7 linked regions of the Homo sapiens genome follow. The protein of the gene in region 1 purifies or fractionates together with the protein of each later gene. This does not show direct contact. Each region holds a gene or a part of one and is shown in the gene's direction. Other genes may lie near its edges. The genes, in order: TMPRSS12, SLC47A1, DPY19L4, VRK1, CLPTM1, POMT1 and ALG9.

The links.
Region 2: the proteins of TMPRSS12 (region 1) and SLC47A1 purify together in Homo sapiens (affinity purification with mass spectrometry; 2 studies listed by BioGRID and IntAct, with this or other methods). This does not show direct contact.
Region 3: the proteins of TMPRSS12 (region 1) and DPY19L4 purify together in Homo sapiens (affinity purification with mass spectrometry; 2 studies listed by BioGRID and IntAct, with this or other methods). This does not show direct contact.
Region 4: the proteins of TMPRSS12 (region 1) and VRK1 purify together in Homo sapiens (affinity purification with mass spectrometry; one large-scale study listed by BioGRID and IntAct). This does not show direct contact.
Region 5: the proteins of TMPRSS12 (region 1) and CLPTM1 purify together in Homo sapiens (affinity purification with mass spectrometry; one large-scale study listed by BioGRID and IntAct). This does not show direct contact.
Region 6: the proteins of TMPRSS12 (region 1) and POMT1 purify together in Homo sapiens (affinity purification with mass spectrometry; 2 studies listed by BioGRID and IntAct, with this or other methods). This does not show direct contact.
Region 7: the proteins of TMPRSS12 (region 1) and ALG9 purify together in Homo sapiens (affinity purification with mass spectrometry; 2 studies listed by BioGRID and IntAct, with this or other methods). This does not show direct contact.

Annotation. Positions count from the first base shown.
Region 1 is NC_000012.12:50,845,926-50,849,425, forward strand, and holds part of TMPRSS12 (transmembrane protease serine 12 precursor), read left to right. Parts: intron 1-3,500. UniProt on the Homo sapiens protein: Required for male fertility. Plays a critical role in sperm capacitation and acrosome reactions during fertilization, and also plays a role in the regulation of proteins involved in spermatogenesis.
Region 2 is NC_000017.11:19,554,354-19,557,853, forward strand, and holds part of SLC47A1 (multidrug and toxin extrusion protein 1), read left to right. Parts: intron 1-858; coding exon 859-956; intron 957-1,239; coding exon 1,240-1,337; intron 1,338-1,442; coding exon 1,443-1,556; intron 1,557-1,641; coding exon 1,642-1,709; intron 1,710-3,206; exon of another isoform or gene 3,207-3,358; intron 3,359-3,500.
Region 3 is NC_000008.11:94,726,400-94,729,899, forward strand, and holds part of DPY19L4 (probable C-mannosyltransferase DPY19L4), read left to right. Parts: coding exon 1-42; intron 43-3,500. UniProt on the Homo sapiens protein: Probable C-mannosyltransferase that mediates C-mannosylation of tryptophan residues on target proteins.
Region 4 is NC_000014.9:96,803,882-96,807,381, forward strand, and holds part of VRK1 (serine/threonine-protein kinase VRK1), read left to right. Parts: intron 1-2,431; exon of another isoform or gene 2,432-3,500. UniProt on the Homo sapiens protein: Serine/threonine kinase involved in the regulation of key cellular processes including the cell cycle, nuclear condensation, transcription regulation, and DNA damage response.
Region 5 is NC_000019.10:44,972,380-44,975,879, forward strand, and holds part of CLPTM1 (putative lipid scramblase CLPTM1), read left to right. Parts: intron 1-707; coding exon 708-831; intron 832-2,059; coding exon 2,060-2,218; intron 2,219-3,500. UniProt on the Homo sapiens protein: Involved in GABAergic but not glutamatergic transmission. Binds and traps GABAA receptors in the endoplasmic reticulum (ER).
Region 6 is NC_000009.12:131,505,918-131,509,417, forward strand, and holds part of POMT1 (protein O-mannosyl-transferase 1), read left to right. Parts: intron 1-196; coding exon 197-303; intron 304-485; coding exon 486-536; intron 537-1,433; coding exon of another isoform or gene 1,434-1,450; coding exon 1,451-1,597; intron 1,598-2,993; coding exon 2,994-3,105; intron 3,106-3,500. UniProt on the Homo sapiens protein: Transfers mannosyl residues to the hydroxyl group of serine or threonine residues. Coexpression of both POMT1 and POMT2 is necessary for enzyme activity, expression of either POMT1 or POMT2 alone is insufficient.
Region 7 is NC_000011.10:111,840,582-111,844,081, reverse strand, and holds part of ALG9 (alpha-1,2-mannosyltransferase ALG9), read left to right. Parts: intron 1-3,272; coding exon 3,273-3,427; intron 3,428-3,500. UniProt on the Homo sapiens protein: Mannosyltransferase that operates in the biosynthetic pathway of dolichol-linked oligosaccharides, the glycan precursors employed in protein asparagine (N)-glycosylation.

The DNA of each region.
Region 1 (3,500 bases):
GTATATCTTCTTTGGAGGAATGTCTATTCAAGTCCTTTGTCCATTTTTGAACTGGGCTCTTTGCTTTTTTGTTGTTGAGTTGTAGGAGTTCTTTATGTATTCTGGATATTAATCTGTTGTCAGACACATTATTTGCAAATATTTTCTCCCATTCTGTGGGTCATCTTTTCACTCTCGATATTGTCCTTTGATACACAAAAGCTTTTAATTTTGATGAAGTCAAATTTATCTATTTTTTTTCTTTTGTTGCCTGTGTTTCTGGTGTAATATGTAAGAAATCATTATATCAAATCCAGTATCACGAAGCTTTTCCCCTATGTTTTCTTCTAAGAGTTTTATAGCTTTAGCTCTTAGATTTAGGTCTTTGATTCATTTTGAGTCCATTTTTGCATAAGGTATCAGGTAAGGGTACAATTTCATTGTTTTACGTGCAGCTATCAAGTTTCCCCAGCACCATCTATTGAAAAGTTTGTCCTTTCCCCATTAGATGGTATTGGCATCTTCATTGAAAATCAATTGATCATATAGAGAGGGTGTATTTCTGGGCTCTCAATTCTTCTCCACTGATGTATATATCTGTCCTTATGCTAGTATCACACACTCTTTGGATTAGTATGGATCTATAGTAAGTATTTTTTCTTGGTGGTGTTTTTGTTTTTTGTTTTGTTTTTTAGACAGAGCCTTGCTTTGTCACCCAGGTTGGCATGCAGTGGCATGATCTCAGCTCACTGCAACCTCCACCTCCCAGGCTCAGGTGATCCTCCCACCTCAGCCTCCTGAATAGCTGGGACTACAGGTGTGCACCACCATGTCTGACTAATTTTTGTATTTTTTTGTAGAGACAGAGTTTCACTATGTTGCCCAGGCTGGTCTGAAACTCCTGGGCTCAAGTGATCTTCCCAGTTTGGCCTCCCAAAGTGGTAACTGCAGGTGTGAGCAACTGCATCCGGCCTGCAGTAAGTTTTGAAATCAGGAAATGTGAGCCCTCCAACTTTGTTCTTATTTTTCAAGATTATTTTAGCTATTTGGAGTCTCTTAATATTCCATATGAATTTTAGGATGGGTTTTTCTGTTTCTGCAAAAAAAAAAATGTCATTGGGATTTTGATAGGGATTGCATTCAGTCTAAAAACTTTTTTTTTTTTTTTTTTTGAGACGGAGTCTCGCTCTGTTGCCCAGGCTGGAGTGCAGTGGCGCGATCTCGGCTCACTGCAAGCTCCGCCTCCCGGGTTCAGGCCATTCTCCTGCCTCAGCCTCCCGCGTAGCTGGGACTACAGGCGCCCCCCACCATGCCTGGCTAATTTTTGTATTTTTAGTAGAGACGGGGTTTCACCGTGTTAGCCAGGATGGTCTCCATCTCCTGACCTCGTGATCCGCCCGTCTCGGCCTCCCAAAGTGCTGGGATTACAGGCGTGAGCCACTGTGCCCGGCCCCTAAAAACTCTTTAAAAAGTTTACAGTCTACAGAGCAATATGGGGAAGTCCACTTTTTCCCATATTGGGGAAAAGATTGCTTTGGGTGGTTCTGTCATCCTTTTGTTTTTTTTATTTTTATTTATTTTTATTTTTTATGAGAGGGAGTTTCGCTCTTGTTGCCTAGGCTGGAGTGCTACAAGAAGACATAAATGAATAAATGAAAATACATCCTGTGTTCATGGATTGGAGGACAGTATTATAAGATGACAGAACCTGCTGGGTGTGGTGGCTCACACCTGTAATCCCAGCACTTTGGGAGGCTGAGGCAGGAGGATCACCTGAGGTCAGAAGTTTGAGACCAGCCTGGCCAACATGGTGAAACCCTGTCTCTACTAGAAATACAAAATATTAGCCAGGCGTGGTGGTGGGTGCCTGTGATCCCAGCTACTCGGCAGGACAATCACTTGAACCTGGGAGGCGGAGGTTGCAGTGAGCTAGATCATGCCACTGAACTCCAGCCTGGGCGAAAGAGCGAGACTTCATCTCAAAAAAAGAGAAAAAATATATATATATATATACACATATATATTCTTCAACTAGATCAGCGTGAGGGAGATGCTTAGGTCTGAGTTCTTTCACCAGTAATATGAGGTACGGGACTACTTGGCCAAGTTTAGTTATTAGTGTCTAGTTTTTTACACTAGTTACTGGAAGACAGGCTTGTCCTTTTTCATCAAGTTTATGGTGATAACTTTATGTTTTAAGTATTTTTTGCAGGTTTGGAAACTCTGTTGGAAAGTTGATTTCTATTTTGAAGGCCCCTTTATCAAATAAAAGGTTGTCAGGAAAAAAAAAAAAAGCCTTGCCAAGTCAATAAATGAGATTTATCAAGTTGGATGCTTGTTATTATAAAGTATTTAATTTCACATTGGTAGATATCTTCAAGCTCCCTCATCGACTTCCTGCTGGCCACTGTGTTGGATTTGCCTTCCCCACTTCCCACCCAGAAATCGGTTTAGTCTCTAAGAACCAGTCATGGTCTTTACTCCTTTTCAAAGCACTGGATTCTGATATGCAGCCAGATTCATCACATGAGGAATGATATTTGGGGCGGAGCTGTCTATAGCTAGGTGTCTCTGAAGGGATTGTTTTTGTCGTTGTTGTTTTGTTTTTTGTCTGCCCTTTTTCTCCCTTTCACTGAATGGCTTCCTTATAACATGAACTTACATATGATGTGTTATCATTCTACCTCATAATCTTTCAGTTTCAGCTCCTATTGCCAACTGGCCTTCTCATCAATTTTCATGGTGAATTATCTGATTATCCCAACCCAGCTTTTCAATCAGGTGATACCACCATTGCTCAATTTATGAATAAACCTTTATTAGAGGCCCACCCCTTTCCCAGAGAGCTGTGGTCAGGGGATCTGGGGTCATGTATTAAATGAGAGCACCTTGACAACAGAGTGGGCAGGGCACTCATCCTTGCATAGGATATGGATATGAGTATATAAGCACCAATGGATATTTCTTTTTGTTTGTTTGAGACAGGGTCTTGCTCTATCACCTAGGCTGGAGTGCAGTAGCACAGTCTTGGCTCACTGCAGCATCAATCTCCCAGGATAAATTGGTCCTCCCACTTCAGCCTCCCCAGTAGCTGGGACTACAGGCATGTGCTACCATGTCTAATTTTTGTGTTTTTTGTAGAGATGGGGTTTTGCTATATTGCCCAGGCTGGTCTCTAACTCCTAAGCTCAAGCTATTTTCCTACCTCGGCCTTCCAAAGGGCTGGGATTACAGGCATGAGACACTGCATACAGCCACCAATGGATATTTTTAGAAAAGGGAAAGAGGATACTGTTTTAATTATCTCTATGTAACTGGAACTGAGAAAGAATATGTTGTAGTCCAGCAGCCCACTGATATCTACTAAAACCTAGAGGCTTTTTCGTACAGCCAGTCCTAACTCACATTAGTAGAAATGACCTGTTGGATCTATTTTTCTTTTCTCAGTTTTCTCACTTATGCACTTATTTTCTTTTTAAAGTTAAGGCATAATTTACATGCAGTAAAATTCACCTTTTAAA
Region 2 (3,500 bases), on another chromosome or scaffold:
AGCTCTGTGCCTGGGTTGGAAATTGAGGCTACTTTTTTGTGTTAACATGATTTTGAGCCTCCACGCGAGAGTGGGGTGTTTTCTTTTTACTGAAATGATTTCAAACAGCAATGTTTCTGAACAGTCTGATTTTAGACAACAAAGTTTCTCAGTGAGTCAGAAAGCACTCGTCATTCCACTAGGGGAGTAATGACACTTTATGGGGACAGCGTGACCTTGGGAGAAAGGAGGTTTCCTTTTACGTTTGCACTGACTTTATCTGCGTCTGCTATTCTATCCGGATGCGGGGCAGGACAGAGTTTTACTTCCTTGGTCTGATGTAATTTTACTTTCACCCCTGTCTTACTTTGAGACACCAAACAGTCTGGATGTTTCACCAGTCCTGTACTTTTGAAAGTTAGATATGTTGGAATCCCTTCCGTATTCTAGAAAGAAACTCTAGTTTCTTCAAGATCTTAGGTCAATTTTCTGAATTTCTATTTTGGTGAAGAAAGTATTCTCATTTTCTCCTATCGTCCAGTGTCAAAGGTGCCTTGTTGACCCATTTAGCCCCTGCCAGTCCTTGCACTGTTGGAAATAAGCCATTTATCTTCTTCCTTCCCTGCTGCTGAACATATCTTGCCTGTGTCTCTCTGTGGCCAGAACTCCGCACTTTATACCTCAAAGAGAGAAGGAAGAGAAAGGGGTGGGAGAGTGGAAAGGCAGGAGCAACAAGGACATGACCTCCCCAGTTAAGCCCCCCAGCTATGCCTGTGATACCCGCTGAGCAGGCCAGCTGGAGCCTGTGTGTGCTTGGGTAGCAGAAAGGCAGTCCTATTCTGTGGATCTCAAGGATGGCATGCGGTGTCCTTTTTCCAGGGAATTGTACTGCCCCAGATCGTAACTGGAGTTGCAGCCAACCTTGTCAATGCCCTCGCCAACTATCTGTTTCTCCATCAACTGCATCTTGGGGTGATGTGAGTCCAACATACTCTTGGGACAGGGAGAAGGGATGACTTGCATGTGGTTTTTCCAGGAGGGAGAAGAGTGGGCTCTTCAGCTGGTTCTTGTGTCCATGCGTGGTCTCTTTCTTGCACACTGTGGAAAGCACTGTCAGGGATGGAGGGTGAGGCTGCTCTGGGAAGAAGACCTTGGCCTGCTGAGGACAGCACGGGAAGGGATGAGTCTCCCCTCCTCACTGAGTTGGGCAGGGAGAGGCGCAGGAAGGTACCTCCCTCTCATTGGGACTGTTCTTTCCAGAGGCTCTGCACTGGCAAACTTGATTTCCCAGTACACCCTGGCTCTACTCCTCTTTCTCTACATCCTCGGGAAAAAACTGCATCAAGCTACATGGGGAGGTAATGACTGCCCTTTTGTCTTCCAACTGGGATGTGGGTTTTGTCTCAGGTTGAGTTCCAGCCCGATGGCCAGATCTCCTGGAAATGTGTGTGTCCCCCCCACAGGCTGGTCCCTCGAGTGCCTGCAGGACTGGGCCTCCTTCCTCCGCCTGGCCATCCCCAGCATGCTCATGCTGTGCATGGAGTGGTGGGCCTATGAGGTCGGGAGCTTCCTCAGTGGTCTGTATGAGGATGGATGACGGGGACTGGTGGGAACCTGGGGGCCCTGTCTGGGTGCAAGGCGACAGCTGTCTTTCTTCACCAGGCATCCTCGGCATGGTGGAGCTGGGCGCTCAGTCCATCGTGTATGAACTGGCCATCATTGTGTACATGGTAAGCAGGGGAGCCGATCATGGGGAGGTGCCAGGCGTTTTCCTTGCTTGGTATCTGAAAGAGTCTATGGATGAGCACAGGCATTCGTACATGAATCATTTGTGAAATGATGGACAAAAGTCAAATCCCATCCTTGAGCCTGGGAGGGTACCTCTGCTACAGCTGGATCTTCCCTAGGAACTGAAGGGGGGCTGGAGAGAAACTGCACATGATCTGCTGGTTCTCCATCTCCTAACGCAGCTCCCAGCTGAATCTTCCCTTGAAAGATTTGATTTTGTTTCCATACTTTTAGAATCTTTTTCAGTTGTCACAACACAAATGCCTTGAGGGGCCAGGTGGGTGGCATAGCAGAGGGATGAGGCTGGGTGTATGACCATAAACATCAAGCTGCCTGTGTCACTATGCCCGCTCCTGCCTGGTTCTGAAGCCTCTGAAAACACAGTGTGGCTACTGCAAGGTAGATCCCCAAAACAACTGAAAGCAGGGTCTTAAAGGGATTTTTTTTTTTTTTTTGAGATGGAGTCCCACTCTTGTTGCCCTGGCTGGAGTGCAATGGTGTGATCTCGGCTCACTGCAACCTCCGCCTCCCGGGTTCAAGCATTTCTTCTGCCTCAGCCTCCCAAGTAGCTGAGATTACAGGTGCCTGCCACCACGCCCAGCTAATTTTGTATTTTCAGTAGAGACAGGGTTTCACCATGTTGGTCAGCTGGTCTTGAACTCCTGACCTCAGGCGATCTACCCGCCTTGGCCTCTCAAAGTGTTGGGATTACAGGCGTGAGCCACCGCGCCTGACTTGTTAACTGTGTTCACAGGAGCATTATTGACAGTAGACAAAAGGTGGAAGCAACCTATGTGTCTGCGGGTAAATGAAATGGGTTCTATGCATACAGTGGAGTATTATTCAGCCTTAAAAGGGAGGAAATTTTGATCATAGAGAACACTAGTCATTAGGAGGCTTTTCTTTGGCTTTATTTTCCTGAAAACATCAACTGGAGATTCTGAAGGAAGCAAGTACCATTTTAGAAATGTAAAATTAAAAACAAAGGGAGTTTATAATGTGGGGAGAAACTCAAGCCAGCAGATATGCTTGGCATTTTTTGCAGTATTAACACTTAGATTTTTTCCCTCTGATATTGGTTATGTTTTAAAACATAGAGTACACATTTTCTGTTTTGTTTAAGAATTATTCTCTTGCAGACCTATGTTTTTTGTTTTTGTTTTTCTATCCTTGGCAGAGTTTTTTAACATGGATTTTTTACTTCACTTTTAATATTTTATTTACATTTTATATTTGAGTAAATTCATTAACTATATCTAAGTCAAAATGCTTAATGGTATATAGGATTCCACTATATGTGATATACTTTTAAAATCAATTTCCTATGGTTGAATAGTTTATTTCCAATGTTTCAATATTAACAACTCTTCAAGGAACATCCTAGGAAAAAATATCTTCATATACTTGTCTGATTATTTCTTTAAGATTCATAAAAGTGGGCCCAGGGTATGTTCACGGGGCGATGCTGCCCTCCCAGCTGGCCCATGGGTGACCCTGGGAACATTAACTGCCTCACAACGTTTGTGCCTCAGTTACCCGTAGATGTAGTGAGGGTAACAATACTTACTCTCGTTGGTGATAAGGAACAGCTAACACAACACACAGGGTTTTTCTGCTCCCAAAATGGGATTCTTCAGTGCACCAAATCGAAGAAAGCACTGGAGCTCACGCTGGTTTCTCCATTGTTTCTCCTTAACAGTGGAAACTGTAACTTTTGTTCTAGTAGCATCTAG
Region 3 (3,500 bases), on another chromosome or scaffold:
AGAAAATCAGTGACATTCCAATTCCTGAAAGAGCTCCAAAACGTAAGTTAGATAGACTTGGAATTTGTGCTACTACAAAAATAGTTTACACTAGAAAGTATATTTTATGTCAATATTTTAAATATACATATTTTGAGATTAAGTATATGCTCAGCTTTCACTAGGTTTTGGACAACCCCCAAATCTCACTGGCTTATGACAAACATTTATTTCTAATTAATATTACATGTTGTGGCTGCAGTTTGGCTGTCGTAGTTTTATGTGTTGCGAAGGAATAGTCCGTATTTGGGAAAGATTTTTCTTGTGACGTAGGAAAAGAGGAGGCAGAATCATGCAATGTCTCTTAAAGTTTCTGCTGACCTGGCACACTATCACTTGTACGCACCTTTTATTGGCCAAAGCAAGTCATATAATCAATTCAGACGATGGGATGTGAAGTATACTTTGATTACAGGGAAGTGTTCCAGGTCACATGGTAGTGGGCAGGGATATATAAGATTTTTAAAGGGAAGGAGAAAATAGTTGTGAATAATAATATAGTTTACCACACCCTGTCCTTGTGATTTATTTCTCTCCCTCAGACAAAATACGCTTACTTTTTCCCACACCCGAAAACTCTCTCTTATCTAGTCACAGCCTTAATCTTGAACCCAAAGGCTTATCTACATCAGGGCCAGCTATGACTCATTCTAATCCAGAGATCTATGAACTAAAAAGACAGGTTATCTGTTTTATGTCGGGGGTTCCCCAGAACACCCCCATGTTTGGTTATTAGCTGGAAGGACTCACAAGTTTCAGAATGAAGTTGTATTTACAGCTATGATTGATTGATTGATTGATTGATTGATTTTTGAGACAGAGTCTCGCTCTGTCACCCAGGCTGGAGTGCAGTGGCACGATCTCAGCTCACTGCAACCTCCACCTTCTGGGTTCAAGCGATTGTCCTGCCTCAGCCTCCTCAGTAGCTGGAACTACAGGCACATGCCACCACGCCTGGCTAATTTTTGTATTTTTGGTAGAGACGGGGTTTCACCATGTTGGCCAGTCTGGTCTTGAACTCCTGACCTCAAGTGTTCCACCTGCCACAACCTCTCAAAGTGCTGAGATTATAGGCATAAGCCACCGTGCCCAGCCTACAGCTATGATTTATTATAGCAAATAATATAAAACAAAATCAGCAAAGGGAAAAGGCCTATTTTGGTGAAATCTGCAAGAAACCAGGCATAGGCTTCCAAATTTCCACTCCAACAGAGTCACACAGGATGGGCCTGATTCCTTCAGCATCAAATTGTGACATTTGTAAAGTTTTATCTACCAGGGAAGCTCATTAGTGACTCAGTGCTCAGGGTTTTTACTGGGGGCTGGTCATGTAGGTATCCTCTGCCTACCATGTCCCAAAATTCTTGACTCCCAGAAAGAAAGCATAAACTACATTGTTTGTACAAAGAGGATAGGCACTGTTATCAGTTAGAGAATGGTGGGAACTCTCCTGAAATTGAAGTTCCTAGATGCCAGCCAAGAGAGCCTACCTTGCAAGCAGGGCTTTCTTTTTTTCCTTTTTCTTTTTCTTTTTTTTTCTTGAGACAGAGTCTCACCCTGTCACCCAGGCAGGAGTGCCATGGTGCGGTCTCTGCTTACTGCAACCTCCATCTTCTGGGTTCAAGCAATTCTTGTGCCTCAGCCTCCCGAGTAGCTGGGATTATAGGCATGTGCCACCACACTTGGTTAATTTTTGTATTTTTAGTAGAAACGGGGTTTCACCATGTTGGCCAGGCTGGTCAACTCCTGACCTCAGGTGATCCGCCTGCAAGCAGGCCTTTCTCAGGAAAGCGGTCTCAGGCCTGCTGTGTTAACTCTTTTCTGCACATCCCCCCACTCTCAGTATACACTGTTGGACAGGGACAGGATATCCCCTTACTCTGGGATAAGGAATCTGTTGTGTTTATGCCCCAGTTGTGTTCCTGGGGAATTGTTTTCCAGTTCATTGTTTTCCATGGTCCTTGATTTTACACTCTAGAGATCTTTTCTCTTCCATTTTCCTCTATAACCATATCTAAAGATGGGTTTGGAGAATGTGTCATCCTTAAGGGCTAAACAGCTTTCTCAGATTGCTTGCTCTGCACTAAAAGTTGAGGCCTATATATAAATTTGCTCAAGATAAAAGCTGTGGGTAATCTACAAATCTAGGTGAGGGGCTGGCCGCAAGAAAACTATATTTGGGAGCTGGAAAAATGAAGATCTATATTATATCATGACAAAACATTTGATAATACTGTTTCCTGTGAACAGTTGACAATACTATTTTTTTCTATCATTTTAGGTAATGAGATTGCAAAACAGAATGTTACTAGAGTGCCTTTGTTATTAACATCTGCATTTGACTACAGGAAAGAGATCTGGGTTTAGAATAGAATTGGACTATTTGTAAGTGGGAATAAAGAAGAAAATAGAGAATCCCAAAATTCTGGGACTTGTAATGTTGAAGTGAGAACAGTTTATTAACCAGGCATGGTGGCTCGCGCCAGTAATCCCAGCACTTTGGGAAGCTGAGGCAGAGGATTGCTTGAGGTTAGGAGTTCAGGACCGTCCTGGACAACATAGTGAGACCCTGTCTTTATTTAAAGAAAAAAAAAAAAGAAAAAGCTGTTTGTCTTTTTCAACCAATGAAAGTTAAAATCAAGAAATGGGAGGCCAGGCACGGTGGCTTAAGCCTGTAATCCCAGCACTTTGGGAGGACGAGGCAGGTGGATCATGAGGTCAGGAGATCGAGACCATCCTGGCTAACATGGTGAAATCCCGTCTCTACTAAAAAAATACAAAAAATTAGCTGGGCATGGTGGCATGCAACTGTAGTCCCAGCTACTTGGGAGGCTGAGACAGGAGAATCGCTTGAACCTGGGAAGCGGAGGTCACAATGAGCCGAGATTGTGCCACTGCACTCCAGCCTGGGTGACAGAGTGAGACTCCGTCTTAAAACACACACACACACAAATTTAAACTTAGGCAATATAGTGAGACCTCATCTCTACAAAAAATCAGAAAAAAAAAAATCAGCCAAGTGTGGTGGTGTGCCCCTGTAGTCCCAGCTACTTGGGAGGCTGAGACACAAGAATTGCTTGAATTCAGGAGGTGGAGATTGCAGTGAGCCGAGAATGTGCCACTGCACTCCAGCCTGGGCAACAGAGGAGATTCCATCTCAAAAAAAAAAAAAAAAAAAAAAAATTTAAGCCTAGGCAATACAGTGAGACCTCATCTCCACAAAAAAATTAAAAAAAAAAAATTAGCTGAGAATGTGGTGGTTCATGCCTGTAGTCCCAGCTACTTGGGAGGCTGAGGTAGGAGGATTGCTTAAGCCTGAGAAGTGGTGTTTGCAGTGAGCCAGGATCACGCCACTGCACTCCAGCCTGGACGATGCAGCAAGACTCTGTCTCAAAAAACAAACAAACAAAAAAGTTAAAAAATTTGAAAAATACAACGTAAGAAAGAAAATTAAATAGTCT
Region 4 (3,500 bases), on another chromosome or scaffold:
TCTTACTGATTTTAGAGCATTCTTTATATGTTGTGTATACAAAATCCTTTGCCAAATATATGATTTGTAAATATATTCTCTCAGTCTCTGGCTTGTCTTTTCATTCTCTTAACAGTGTCTTTAGCAGCAAAAAAGTTTCAAATTTTGTTAAAGTCCAACTTCTCAATATATGGATCGTGTTTTTAGTGCCTATCTTAGAACTCTCTGCCTAACTCTAGGTCAGGAGGTTGTTCTCATTTTTTCTTCTGTTTTACCCTTATATGTCTTACATTTAGATCCGTGATCCTTTTTGGTTTCATTTTTGCACAGGATGTGAGCTTTAGATCTTGGTACATTTTTCTTTTCCTTTTGTCCATGGATGTCCAGTTGTTCCAAAACCATTTGTTGAAAAGTCTACCCTTTCTCCATTCAATAAGTTTTAAAAATCAAAAATCAGTTGGCCATATACTGTAAATTAGGTATCAAAACAAAGACAGGAAGAAATGAATGAGCAATTAACTATTAATAAATACAGGTTTATTGAAGGTATAACATGGCTGGAGTCTGGAAAAAGTGGGAAAACATTTTAGAGAATAACATGGGCAAAGATCTGTTCTAGAGAAAATAAGTAAGAACTGGCTATTTTTGGGAGTCATGCAAGTGAAGGGAAGTAGAGAAGTAAAGGAAGGATCATTGGTTCGTGAAAAAGAAAGAGTATATAAACTTCTGGCTAGATTGAAGCATTTGTAATCAGTTTCATTGGCTATTAGGAAGGTGCTGTATATTCTTAATCAGGAAAATGGTATGATAGAAATGGTATTAAAGAGAAGTTGTTTTAGGACCATTTGTGGCAGTGATACGTTGGTAGGAAGAACAGGATATAATCATGACCCTTGACTTACAACTTTGTTTTACAAATATCTGCCAGAAAGCTAAAAAAGTGGTGTTACTTCAGAATGTTATAAATTCCTAGTATTTTCTAGAAGGCAGTGGTAGATTTCAAACTTTTGCTGCTGTCCTCAGTGATGGATATGGAGAAGTCAGCAGGACTTCCAAACTGTTTCGTATTTATGCTACTGTTATTAAGTTGTACATTTGGGAAAAAGAGTAGTTTCCGTTGGCTCATTGTTGATGTGGGTGACATTTCTTACCAGGCCTGAAAAGAGTCCAAGCGTTGAGCAACTGAAATGATAAAAACATGAAGAGTTCATAAATCGGTCCAATGAGGAAAAGTTAATGGGATCAGATTTATTTATCATGGCAAAGAGGAGACTCAGGGGTTATTTAATCAGTATGTCCTGATACTTGTATGTGAAGAACTATACAGAGAATGATGATGACCAGCTGTTCTTCAAAATCCTGAGGACTGCATAAGAACAAATGGCTCAAATTGCAGCTTTAAGGTTTTGGTCTTAGGGAAGAATTTCCGGACAGTAAAGACATTATATATTTCATGTGAGATATTAAAGGATACACTAGAAACCTAGATGTAGTATAGGAACATTTTGCTTGTAGTCAGGGGGATGTGAAAGATAACAGATCTATGTTTTTGCCCTCGAGTCCTATTAAATTCATGAGCAAAAGTACTCACTTTCCATTTTGTTAGTGCCTACTTCAGTTGTTAGTTTCTTTCTCCATGCAAATTATACTCTTCCCCTCCCCTGCCGTTTATCTGTGGGGATCTCTTTGGTTTCTGCTTTCTTTTGTGCATTTAAAAGATTATCATGGCTGTAGATTAGACTTAAGTCATTTTAAAAATAATCAGTCAACAAATAGAACCTGTATAGTGTCGAACTACTAGAAATCAATGCATTTCTGTTCCTATTTAGAACATGGAAAAATGTATCATTCCATTAAGAAAAAAATCAGTGATGACTTGTTGAGGCAAGGATTTTACAGTGTAAGAGGTTACCATTGACACATGTTAATGAAAGAAGGGCAGTGTTAAAAGCTTTCATGCAACATCTCACATGTTTTTAAAGTACCTGTTCTGTTTGATTTAACTTCCTTATTCTGATTCTTTTCTACTTGTCTAGATCTTTTTTTCCACTGAAATGTTGAGATTGACCAAGAATATTTCACTTGTGATTTGCAGCCCTTCAGTATTATCACAGAGAATTTTTCTTTTTTTTTTTTTTTTTCTGCAGAAGAGCAAGCTCTTATAGTGCTATGCAAGCTGCCCATTTAAAACTATCATTGCTTGGCACCTATGCCCTAGTGACAGTTTGACCAACATGTGAGCAGGCATACTGCCATCCTGACAGATGGGCGTGAGTATAGGCAGCCAAGAAACCATGTATCTGCATCTAGTGTATTTGTTAAGGGCAGGATTCCCAGTCGGGGATGTTCAAACGTCTGTCCATTCTGAGCTTTCACGCCTATGGATAAAAGGATGTCATCATTAATCCCATCCTCCATGGGTATATAAGAGCTTCTTGGCTCTTACAGAAGTAGGCAATTGGGGACAATCAGGATAATTGTTCTCTTCTTCATCACAGGACTACTTCAAATAATCCTTTCCTCTTTCTCCTAGCCAGCTAGGTTTACAGTGAGTACAAACCTGTTCAGACATTGTCCTGATACTTGTGGAATATGTGCTTGTTCATTTCTTTTCCAGAGTGTGAAAGCTTTGAAAGTCATTTGATGTTTATGCTTTGGACAGTGACATATAAAATTGGGTCAGGTAGATCTAGTTCAAATATTGACTGCTGTGTGACATTAGAGCAATTCAATTTAGCATCAAATCAAGGTAAAATAATACCTATCTTAGAGTTGTTGAATTAACTGCAAACTGTATACATGAGTCATTTGGTGTAATGTCTGGCCCACAGTAAGTGTTCAATAAATGTTTGTCATCATCATCATTTTCACTTTGATATACCTGAAGGTATTTTTCTCTGGAGAGGTATCTGAAACAAAACTTTTTTCAATTCACTCTCACTTCCCATCATTCCCCTCCCTCCCTCCCTCCCTTCCTTCCCTCCTTCCCTTCCTCTCGCTCTGTCAACCAGGCTGGAGTGCAGTGGTGCGATCATAGCTCACTGCCACCTTGATTTCCTGGGAGCAAATGATCCTCCTCCTGAGTAGCTGGAATGACAAGCCACCATTCCTGGCCCACCATTCTTGTGACATCATCACATGGTCTGGTCTATGATGAAATGCCTCCAACGACAGAGAACTCACTATCTCTAGGGCAGAATTTCTCAACCATGGGACTGTTGACATTTTACATGGGTCACTGTTTGTTCTCTGCACTGTGGGATGTTTAGTGGCATCTCTGGCTACAGAGACAAAATCATCTCTGGTTGAGAACCACTGCTCTAGAGACAGCCTATCCTATTTTTATTAAAGTTTTGACCATTAGAAAATTCTTTCTTACATTGAGTGGAAGTCTACTTAATTTCTTCTACTCACTTCTGCCTTTTGGAGAAATGTGGAACAGGCTGAATCCCTCTTCCACGTAACATCCTTTCAAATATGTGAAAATAGTCATCAAGTATTCTCAGTCTTTTTGATTTGAA
Region 5 (3,500 bases), on another chromosome or scaffold:
TGGGACTACAGGCGCCCGCCACCATGCCCAGCTAATTTTTTTGTATTTTTTAGTAGAGACAGGGTTTCACCATGTTAGCCAGGATGGTCTCAATCTCCTGACCTCGTGATCCGCCCGCCTTGGCCTCCCAAAGTGCTGGGATTACAGGCATGAGCCGCCGCGCCCGTCCTCGTTCATTCTATTTTTTGTAGCCATTAACCATCCCCGGTTCTGTGCTTTTGAAGCGCTAGGATTCCAGATTCTTTCTTTTAAAAATTTTATGTTTATTATTTTTTCTTTATTTCTTTTTTCTTTTAATTCATCCATCTGCACACTGAAGGGGTTCCAGATTCTTAGTCTCCTCTCGGGGGATCCCAGGGGGCTGGATGGCAGGTTTCCCAGTCTGAGTCAAGAGTCAGCCCCTGCAGCCCTGTGGTCACCAGGAGCTCCTGCAGGATTTAGAGTCAAGGGTCTGCATGCAGACCAGGGCAGTGCCAGCTACCCCCACACACTGGCAAACGGTGGCATCTGGGCTCCCTCCCCAGATGTGGTCTTTAGGGACATCTTATCTCCTTGCCAGCCCTGTGACTACCTTCTCAGGGCCTCCCTGACTTGGTCACTAGCCCCAGGTCAGGCGCCAGCATGTGCTAAGTCAGAAGGAAGTCAGGCGGGTCTATGGCGGAGAGCCAAGGCTTGGGGACTCACCACCTTGCTGCTTCTCTCCTCAGGATCTTCATCATCTGGGCCATCAGCAGTTGGTTCCGCCGAGGGCCGGCCCCTCAGGACCAGGCGGGCCCCGGAGGAGCTCCACGCGTCGCCAGCCGCAACCTGTTCCCCAAAGACACTTTAATGGTAACTGCCGGGTGGTAGGGCAGACTTGGGAGGTGATGGGGTGTGGAGGGGTGGAATGTGGAGGAGTGATGTCAGCAGTCGGGACAGACCAGGTCCTTGCTCACTGGCAGGTCTAGGAAAACAGGTCCAGGGTTGAGGAACTCTGGGCCCATCCCCAACACGTGAGACCTCTGTCACCTGGGTCCATCCCCAGCACATAAAACCTGTGTCACCCAAAAGAAAAAGCAAATTCATTTGGTTAAAATAGGTTAAATCAGGGTCTTTGGATGTTATATTTCAAAAGTATGTTCAGCCTTTCAGGGTTGCAGAGGGAGATGTGCAAGGGAGAGAGTGTGAGAGGTGGGGAGGGCAGGGAGCCAGCAGAGGCTGACAGGAGGTGGGCCCGGAAGGAGAGGAGACCTGCACTTCCACAGTGGGCTTGGGCACAGGCAGGGCAGGGCTTCAGGAGCCTCCAGAGCAAAAGCATTTAGATCTGTCAGTCTAGGCTTTTCTGAGCAAACATGGCCATTGGGGCTTGAGAAAGGAGGAAGTTCTTGTTGGGTCACAGTGGGTTTTTTTTTTTTTTTTTTTTGAGATGGAGTCTCACTCTGTCGCCCAGGCTAGAGTGCAGTGGCATAATCTTAGCTCACTGCAACCTCTGCCTCCCGGGCTCCAGTGATCCTCCTGCCTCAGCCTCACGACTAGCTGGGATTACAGGCATGTGCCACCACGTCCAGCTAATTTTTTGTATTTTTAGTAGAGATGGGGTTTTACCTTTTTGGTACGCTGGTCTCGAACTCCTGACCTCAAGTGGTCTACCCGCCTTGGCCTCCCAACGTGCTGGGATCACAGGCATGAGCCACCGTGCCCGGTGGCTCACAGTGCTTTTGTAGCTCTGGACTGCTTCGTCCATAAGCCTGCAGAGCTCTGACCAGGAAGGCCCAGCAGCCATGAGGGCAGGAGATCATTCAGGGAGCTCCTGCCCCTTCCTACCCCTAAATTCTAATTGGCAGGCTGGCCAGTCTCCAAGTGTTCTTTGTTCGTTGACTTCACAGGCTCAGACCAGGACAAACATGGTGGTATGAGAAAAGAGAAAATATGTCCTCTCTGCTGCTCTTCCTCTCTCCTCTCCCCTGTCCTCCATAATTACTGTTCCCCTGAGTGTGCTGACCGCTGCCATAGCTCTTTAGCCAGCCTGCAGAGGCTCTGAAGAGCAGGCCTGAGCTCTGTTCCCTTCCTGTCCCAACAGAACCTGCATGTGTACATCTCAGAGCACGAGCACTTTACAGACTTCAACGCCACGTCGGCACTCTTCTGGGAACAGCACGATCTTGTGTATGGCGACTGGACTAGCGGCGAGAACTCAGACGGCTGCTACGAGCACTTTGCTGAGCTCGATATCCCACAGGTGGGGGCAGCTCTCGGTTTCTGGCCCCATGGCTGCTTGACTGGCACTGAAGGACCTTTTCCTCCAGTCCGCTCCTTGCTGAGAGCATGTGGAGTTTGGGCTCCAGGCTTGGCCCTTCCCTGGGCTCACATGGTCTGTGACCACAAGCCAGTCCCTGAGATCTCTGGGCTTCACTTTCCCCTACCTGAAAAAGGTAGATAGGGGTGGAATTGGCCTGGGACCCTCCCAGCTACCTCTAAGGTTGTGCAGTCCTCCACTTTAAACTGGTGAAAGATTAGTAATTGTCCTTGGGGATGTTTGCCTATCACCAGTTTATCAGGCAGCCCCGTTTCAAAATAATATTAGTTAATGTTGATTGAGCTAAGTGCAGGGTACTAAGCTAGGCTGACTCATGGAAATTTCCCGGCAACCCTGTGAAGCAGGAACTGTTATTATTCTCATTTAACATGTGAGGAAACTGAGAGAGAAGGAAAGTGATTTACCCAAGGCCACATCGCATGAGAGATTCAGACTCAGGCTCTACGGCTGTGGACTCTCGCAGCCCTAGGCTCAAATCCAACCTCCTCCAGGAAGCCCTCCCTGACTCACAGAGCACTCAGGCTTGGTTAAGCACCCTCTCTGGGTTCTCACACCTGCTGGGCTTCCCCATCCCAGCCCATTCTGGGGCCTCATTGGGACTCCTGTATGGGACTGTGAGCCTTGTGATAATAAGGCTGGGGCTGCCTAGATCACTTCCATGTCCCCAGCACTGCCCAACGTGGGGCTGGGTGCAGAATCAGCAAGTATTGAACAAGTAAAAGGGACATCTCTCTTTGGGGCCTTCTTCGGCTGAGTCCAAGACAGCTGCCCTCATTCCTTTCTCCCCAGCAGGCCTTCTCAGCTTTGGGGTGGAGGGCACATTTCTGTTCTATTTCTGTCTGGGTAGCTAGAAGCAGAATGTGGACACAGTCATTCTGGTTTTTTTTTTTGTTTTTTGTTTTTTTTTGAGACAGCGTCTCGCTCTGTCACCCAGTCTGGAGGGCAGTGGCGCAACCTTGGCTCACTGCAACTTCACCTCCCAGGTTCAAGCGATTCTCATGTGCCAGCCTCCTGAGTAGCTGGGACTAAGGCACACATGATCACACCCAGCTAATTTTTTTATTTTTTAGTAGAGACAAGGTTTCACTATGTTGGCCAGGTTGGCCTTGAACTCCTGACCTCAAGTGATCCACCTACCTTGGTCTCCCAAAGTGCTGGGATTACAGGCGTGAGACACCGCGTCCAGCCATCATTCTTTTCTTTT
Region 6 (3,500 bases), on another chromosome or scaffold:
CCCATGTCTCTGTGGGTGGGTGATGCTGTATGCATCTTAATATTTGGGGATGGGAAACAATTGGGGCAAAAGATCCAGCCTTTGCTGATCACTCACTCAAAGTCATTTGGAAACACATACACATTTATCCTCACAGTTTTTGTTTACAGTTAAGATTCTAATTGAATATAATATGGGTTGTTGTTTTTTTTTCTAGTTTTGACGAAGTATATTATGGGCAGTACATCTCTTTTTACATGAAACAAATCTTCTTCTTGGATGACAGTGGGCCGCCATTTGGCCACATGGTGCTGGCCTTGGGAGGTAGGAGTCATCAGGAGAGTAGCCCCTACCCTTCAGGACCTCAAATACATTTAAAACTTATCAGTGCATTTCTTACAGGCAGAAACCAGGTCTTATTATTGATGCATCTTGTTTATTGCTTGCCACAGTACTCTAGAAATATTTGCTGAATGGGATAGTTACTGATTAATCTTCTGTTTCAGGTTATTTAGGAGGATTCGATGGCAATTTTTTGTGGAACAGAATTGGAGCAGGTAAAAGATAATTTTCATTTCCCTTTTAATGTGCGCAGGTTAGAATGAAGAGATTGTGACTTTTGTAAGGATTAACAACTGTGGCTTTTTTTTTCCTTTCATACCTAGTCCCACAGAAACTGTGCCTTATTAATCTGAGTCCAGAAAATAATAAATTGGTTGGATACAAATGAAAGACTTCTGGAAAGTCTGGTTAAAATCTTACTGTTCAGTTGCAGTCATTATTTCAGCCCTTGTCGTTGGTACACGTATCACAGAGCGTCTGATTGTGATGATCGGTTGTACATGTGAATTTTGTCCATTGCCACAATGTTTTTGAAAATAGGGAGGGTAGGCCGGGCGCGCTGGCTCACGCCTGTAATCCTGGCACTTTGGGAGGCTGAGACGGGTGGATCATGAGGTCAGGAGATCGAGACCATTATGGCTAACATGGTGAAACCCCGTCTCTACTAAAAATACAAAAATTAGCCGGGCGTGGTGGCGGGCGCCTGTAGTCCCAGCAACTCGGGAGGCTGAGGCAGGAGAAGGGCGTGAACCCGGGAGGCGGAGCTTGCAGTGAGATGAGATGGCGCCACTGCACTCCGGCCTGGGGGACAGAGCAAGACTCCGTCTCAGAGAAAAAAAAAAAAAGAAAAAAGAAAACAGGGAGGGTAAATATGTATAAGTAAGGCGGTAAATTTTAGAATCCTTAGTCCTGTCTATGCTTCATGAGATCGGGTTCCATGACTATGCAAAGCTAATTTCAAAGCCTTCACCCATAGTTTATGCACTCTGCTGCTGATGGGGTCCCCAGTTTTGTAAACGTGCATTTTAGAGTCTGTGAACATGACGGCGCTATGTGAAAGCATAGCTGCAGTACACAGAGATGGTGTGTGCACAGTGTAGTCAGCTCTGCAGTGTGGTTGCTTTTCCAGAATACAGTAGCAACGTGCCTGTGTGGTCCCTGCGCCTGCTGCCAGCACTCGCGGGGGCCTTGTCGGTCCCCATGGCCTACCAGATAGTGTTGGAGCTCCACTTTTCTCATTGTGCCGCCATGGGAGCTGCTCTGTTGATGCTTATCGGTAAGACCTGCGCCCCTGCCTGCTCTTGCTGTCATGCAGGGAAGAACTGACCCTTTGGCCCGGAAGATCACATGGGCTTGGTGGGCGAGCTGCACCAGAAAGTGCATCTGGTTCATCCAAATTTGACGCTGCAAGTCACCCGCTCCCAGGCTGACCCCGTGGTTATGGGATTGCTGAATTGTGGGATCAGACTCTTATCAGCAGTCGGGGTATGGCAGTAGAAAACTGCCCAGATGCTGCTGCAAAGTCCATGCACACGTGGGCACCTCCATCTCCAACCAATCTTGTGACCAAATGATAACTTCCCCTTGTTCCACCACCTCCCAGGCCTTGGCCAATTGAGATGGACTCGTGAGTCAGTGGATCCTCTTCAGAGAGGGTCTTCCAGCTCACGTTTATGAACAGATGAAATTAAAGCAGATGAAAAGTTAGATTAGGCTGGGCGCAGTGGCTCACACCTATAATCCCAGCACTTTGGAAGGCTGAGGCGGGCAGATCACGAGGTCAGGAGTTTGAGACCAGCCTGGCCAACATGGTGAAACCCTGTCTAAAAATAACGAAAAATACAAAAAATTAGCTGGGTGTGGTGGCAGGTGCCTGTAATCCCAGCTACTTGGGAGGCTGAGGCAGGAGAATTGCTTGAACCTGGGAGGTGGAGGTGGCAGTGAGCCAAGACTGCGCCACTGCACTCCAGCCTGGGCAACAGAGCAAGACTCCATCTCAAAAAAAATAAATAAGCCGGGCACGGTGGCTCACACCTGTAATCCCAGCACTTTGGGAGGCTGAGGCGGGTGGATCACAAGGTCAAGAGATCGAGACCATCCGGGCCAACATGGTGAAACCCCATCTCTACTAAAAATACAAAAATTAGCTGGGCATGGTGGCACCCACCTTTTGTCCCAGCTACTCAGGAGGCTGAGGCAGGAGAATCGCTTGAACCCGGGAGGCGGAGGTTGCAGTGAGCCGAGATTGTACCACTGCACTCCAGCCTGGTGACAGAACAAGACTCTGTCTCAAAAAAATAAATAAATAAAATTAGCCAGGTGTGGTGGCATGCGCCTATAGTCCCAGCTACTCAGGAGCCTGAGGCAGGAGGATCCCTTGAGCCCTGGTGGTCAAAGCTGCAGTGAGCCATGATGGTGCCACTGCACTCCAGCCTGGGCGACAGAGCAAGACCCTGACTCAAAGAAAAGAAAGAGACAGTAGAAAATCAAAAGAGATGTGTATTGGGTGATGACTGTATGAGGCCTTGTGTCTATAGAATGTTTTAACATTCACAACAGCCCCACACAGTTGTATCGCTTCTGAAGTAATGCCTTTTTTCATGAGTGTTTTTCATCCTCATACGTTTTCCCTTGCTACCTTAAAATTGACATGTGTTTCCTCTTTGAAACAGAGAATGCTCTCATCACTCAGTCAAGGCTAATGCTTTTGGAATCAGTGTTAATATTTTTCAATCTATTGGCCGTGTTGTCCTACCTGAAGTTCTTCAACTGCCAAAAGCACAGGTATGGAAAATGGAGTGTCTTCCTAGTTAACGAGAACAGAGATTCTGGGTGGTTTGTTGATCTGAGATGGTCCAGTACCTTTTTTTGTTTCGTTTTGTGAGACAGTACCTTTTCATTTTGAGGAGTTGCTTGCTAAATATCTTTTTTTTTGAGACGGAGTCCCTGTCACCCAGGCTGGAGTGTAATGGCGCAATCTCGGCTCACTGCAACCTCCGCTTCCCAGGTTCAAGCAATTCTCCAGCCTCAGTCTCCCGAGTAGCTGAGATTACAGGCACACAGCACCATGTCTGGCTAATTTTAGTATTTTTAGTGGAGACGGGGTTTCACCATATTGGCCAGGCTGGTCTCAAACTCCTGACCTCAGGTGATCTACCCGTCTTGGCCTCCCAAAGTGT
Region 7 (3,500 bases), on another chromosome or scaffold:
AGTGAGCCAAGACCCTGCGCCGCTGCACTCCAGCTGAGCGACAAGAGCAAAACTCCATCTCAAAAAAAATCTCAGAAGAGAACAAGCCTATTTGAGTTTTCTATCTTTTAAAGAAGTGTATATTAACCTGATAGGTTGCTTAAGGTAATCCACGAGATAGTACTTCAAACGAAAGTATAAAATCTGAACCATACAGGGATTTCCCCAAATTTGATAGTGAAGTAAGGGAAGCTTTGGACTTCCTCAGAAGCATGATGCTTTTCTTTGTTCCTTTTTGTTTCTGTGTCTGCCTTATTGGAGAAAGTTTGGTTTGTCGTTTGCTTTGCTTGCTCTGATTCTGTAGTGCACAGCTGGTGTTTTCTCAAGTTGTCGTGGCTCTGGATATCTAGTGCCTCTCATTTCTTTTATGGAAGACAGATTTGAACAGAAATTCATATGAGGTTTGGAAAAAGATTTAATTTCAGACTTTGCAGTCTGATTTGGATGCCATATGATCAGTTCCCCCATCCCACCTCCATTCTGCTTTTCTACTATTAATGGTTTATAATGAGTTCGTTGTATTATAAGAATATTAGAGCAGCCTTCAGAGTCACTTTTCTTTGGTGTTAGGACTTTTGTTTCAACGTAGCCATAATGCCATTATCCTAATAAAATTATCAGTAATTTCTTAATATCATCTAATACCCATTGATTTCCTAGATTGTCTGAAAAATAGCCTTTTATAGTTAGTTTAAAGCAGAATCTCAACAAGGGTCACGTACTGAATTTAGTGTTATATTTCTTAAGCTTTTTAAGAAGACCCCCATCTTACTTTTTTTCTTTCGAAGATTTCTTTAAAGAAACCAGGCCATCATCTTGCATAATGTCCCACATTTTAGACTCAGCTGTTTGCTCCCTTGAGGTGTTAACTTATTCCTCTATCCCTTCTATTTCTTAAGGATCACTTTTTCTTTTTTTGAAAATAGCTATTTTTCTGACTATAAAAATAATTTATGATAGCTGGGAGCAGTGGCACGTGCATATAGTTCCAGCTGCCCGGGAGGCTACGGTGGGAGGATTGCTTGAGCCCAGGAGTTCGAGACCACTCTGGGCAACATAGTGAGACCTGTGTCTCTGTTTTTAAAAACAACAATAATAATTATTTATGCTTGTGGAAAATTTGGAAATGCTTGTAACGTCAGTAAAAAAACAGGATATTAAGCTGTTCTCTACAGTATGATAAAATTTTAAGTATAAAATATTGGTTTAAAATGCATAATGTATGCACATATCTACCTAGTAAGAAAACATTTTCTGTTTTTTTCTTTATATTTTTATGTGATTTTAGAATAGAACCAATACTTTTTTAAGAGAAAAAAGACCAGGCACAGTGGCTCATGCCTATAATCCCAGTATTTTGGGAGCACGAGGTGGGAGGATTGCTTGAACCCAGGAGTTCAAGACCAGCCTGGGTGAGATAGCAAGACCCTGTCACTACGAAAAAAATTAAAAAATTAACCGGGCATGGCGATGCACACCTGTAGTCCCAGCTACTTGGGAGGCTGAGGTGGGAGGATTGCTTAAGCCTAGGAGGTCAAGGCTACAGTGAGCCATGGTTGTGCCACTATGCTCCAGCCTGGGTGACAGAGCGAGACCCTGTCTCAAGAGAAAAAAAAAGTCCCCCAAACCATAGAAAATTATTAAGAAGCAGGAAAGAAATTACTCTTGATTTCATCATATCTAGCTGTGGTTGTGATTTTGTATATTTTATGGAGGACATTTCAAAATTTTTTGCCTTATTAAAAAAAGATTACTCGTTAGCCTTTAAGGTACAGAAGAGAAAAGGACTGTTTACTTGTGGACAATAAGTGGATTTATTTTCTTCTAATTAAAAAACCCCACCTTAGGCCAGGCACAGTGGCTCACGCCTGTAATCCCAGCACTTTGAGAGGCCGAGGCGGGTGGATCACCTGAGGTCAGAAGTTCAAGACCAGCATGACCAACACTGTGAAACCCCATCTCCACTAAAAATACAACAGTTAGCCTGGTGTGTTGATGCATGCCTGTAATCCCAGCTACTAAGGAGGCTGAGGCAGGAGAATCATTCGAACCTGGGAGGTAGAGGTTGCAGTGAGCCGAGATTGTGCCACTGCACTTCAGCTTGGGTGACAGAGAGAGACTCCGTCTCAGAAAACAAAAAACAAAAAACCTCCCCCTTAAAATATACTACCTAGAAAGGTATATATTCTAAATTATTATCTAAAATCCCATAATGTCTTAGAGCAAAAGTTGAAACAAAATCTTGTTATTGTAGTTCAAGAATTTTTATCCTTAAAGAATTTCTACAGTGAAAGTGATAGCCTAGGAATGCTAAATTAGGCATAGCTAAAGTGGATCTTGACGATAATCCTGATCTTGTAAACTGGCTTACTGTTAACATGGTGGACACCAGGGGGCGCTGTCTATCTACCATTTGCCCGCATTTGCGTTGCTCATTATCACTCCTGTAAACGCAGTAGGAGATGCCTTCACTGTGGGTTGCAGGCTTATCTCTCATTTCTCATGTACCTAACCACGGGAACTTTCCAGCAGGTTCTTGGGTTTTAGTGTTCATTACATTCCTTTAATTCTTTCACATGCTTTAAGTACATTTTTGTTCCAATTTGGGGATCCGGAGTGGATGAGTATTGCAAAATGGAGAGAAAACAATCACTGAACTTCCTTTAAGAGCATTTTTATGTTTGCCTTGAAACAAACTCCGTCATTTGTGGCTTGATGAAAACCAGTAATGAATTTGAGAATCCAACAATTTTGTTTTCCTTTGATCCATGGCTATTTGAACAGACTGATTGGTGTATAGATAAGAGACACCAATTAAACAGAACATTGGAATTAAAACCCCAGAAATGAATTTATGTTATGCTTTTGGTTAAACTCAGGAACTTTTCGTCTTAGTGGCAGGACTCATTAAAGGAGACGGCTTATTTTTCCTTCATCTAACGTAGAATTTATTAAGTTCTATTAGCCATTAACTTGACATTTATATGTGTCCTAACCAAATCTAGTATTGTGCTTGTTGTTAGAGTTTAGATCTCTTGGGAGAGCTAAGGAGTATATTCTTCTCTCCTTTTGATGCCTTTATGGCATTGGAGAAAGTGTGAATACAAGAGTAGAAACATTCTATGGAGTGTCCTAGGGCATACTCCTAAATTTGAGATCAAGATAACACTAAAACTAAATATGTTGTTTTGTTCTAATATAATGAAAGATGGGTATTTTTCTGTGTCTTGCAGTTCAGAATTTAGGCCACCCGTATTGGCTTACCTTGGCTCCAATGTATATTTGGTTTATAATTTTCTTCATCCAGCCTCACAAAGAGGAGAGATTTCTTTTCCCTGTGTATCCACTTATATGTCTCTGTGGCGCTGTGGCTCTCTCTGCACTTCAGGTGAGTTTCAGGGAGAAGTGTATCTGCCTCATTCTTTTTTACTTATTAAATAATTGCTCACAAACTTAAGTGC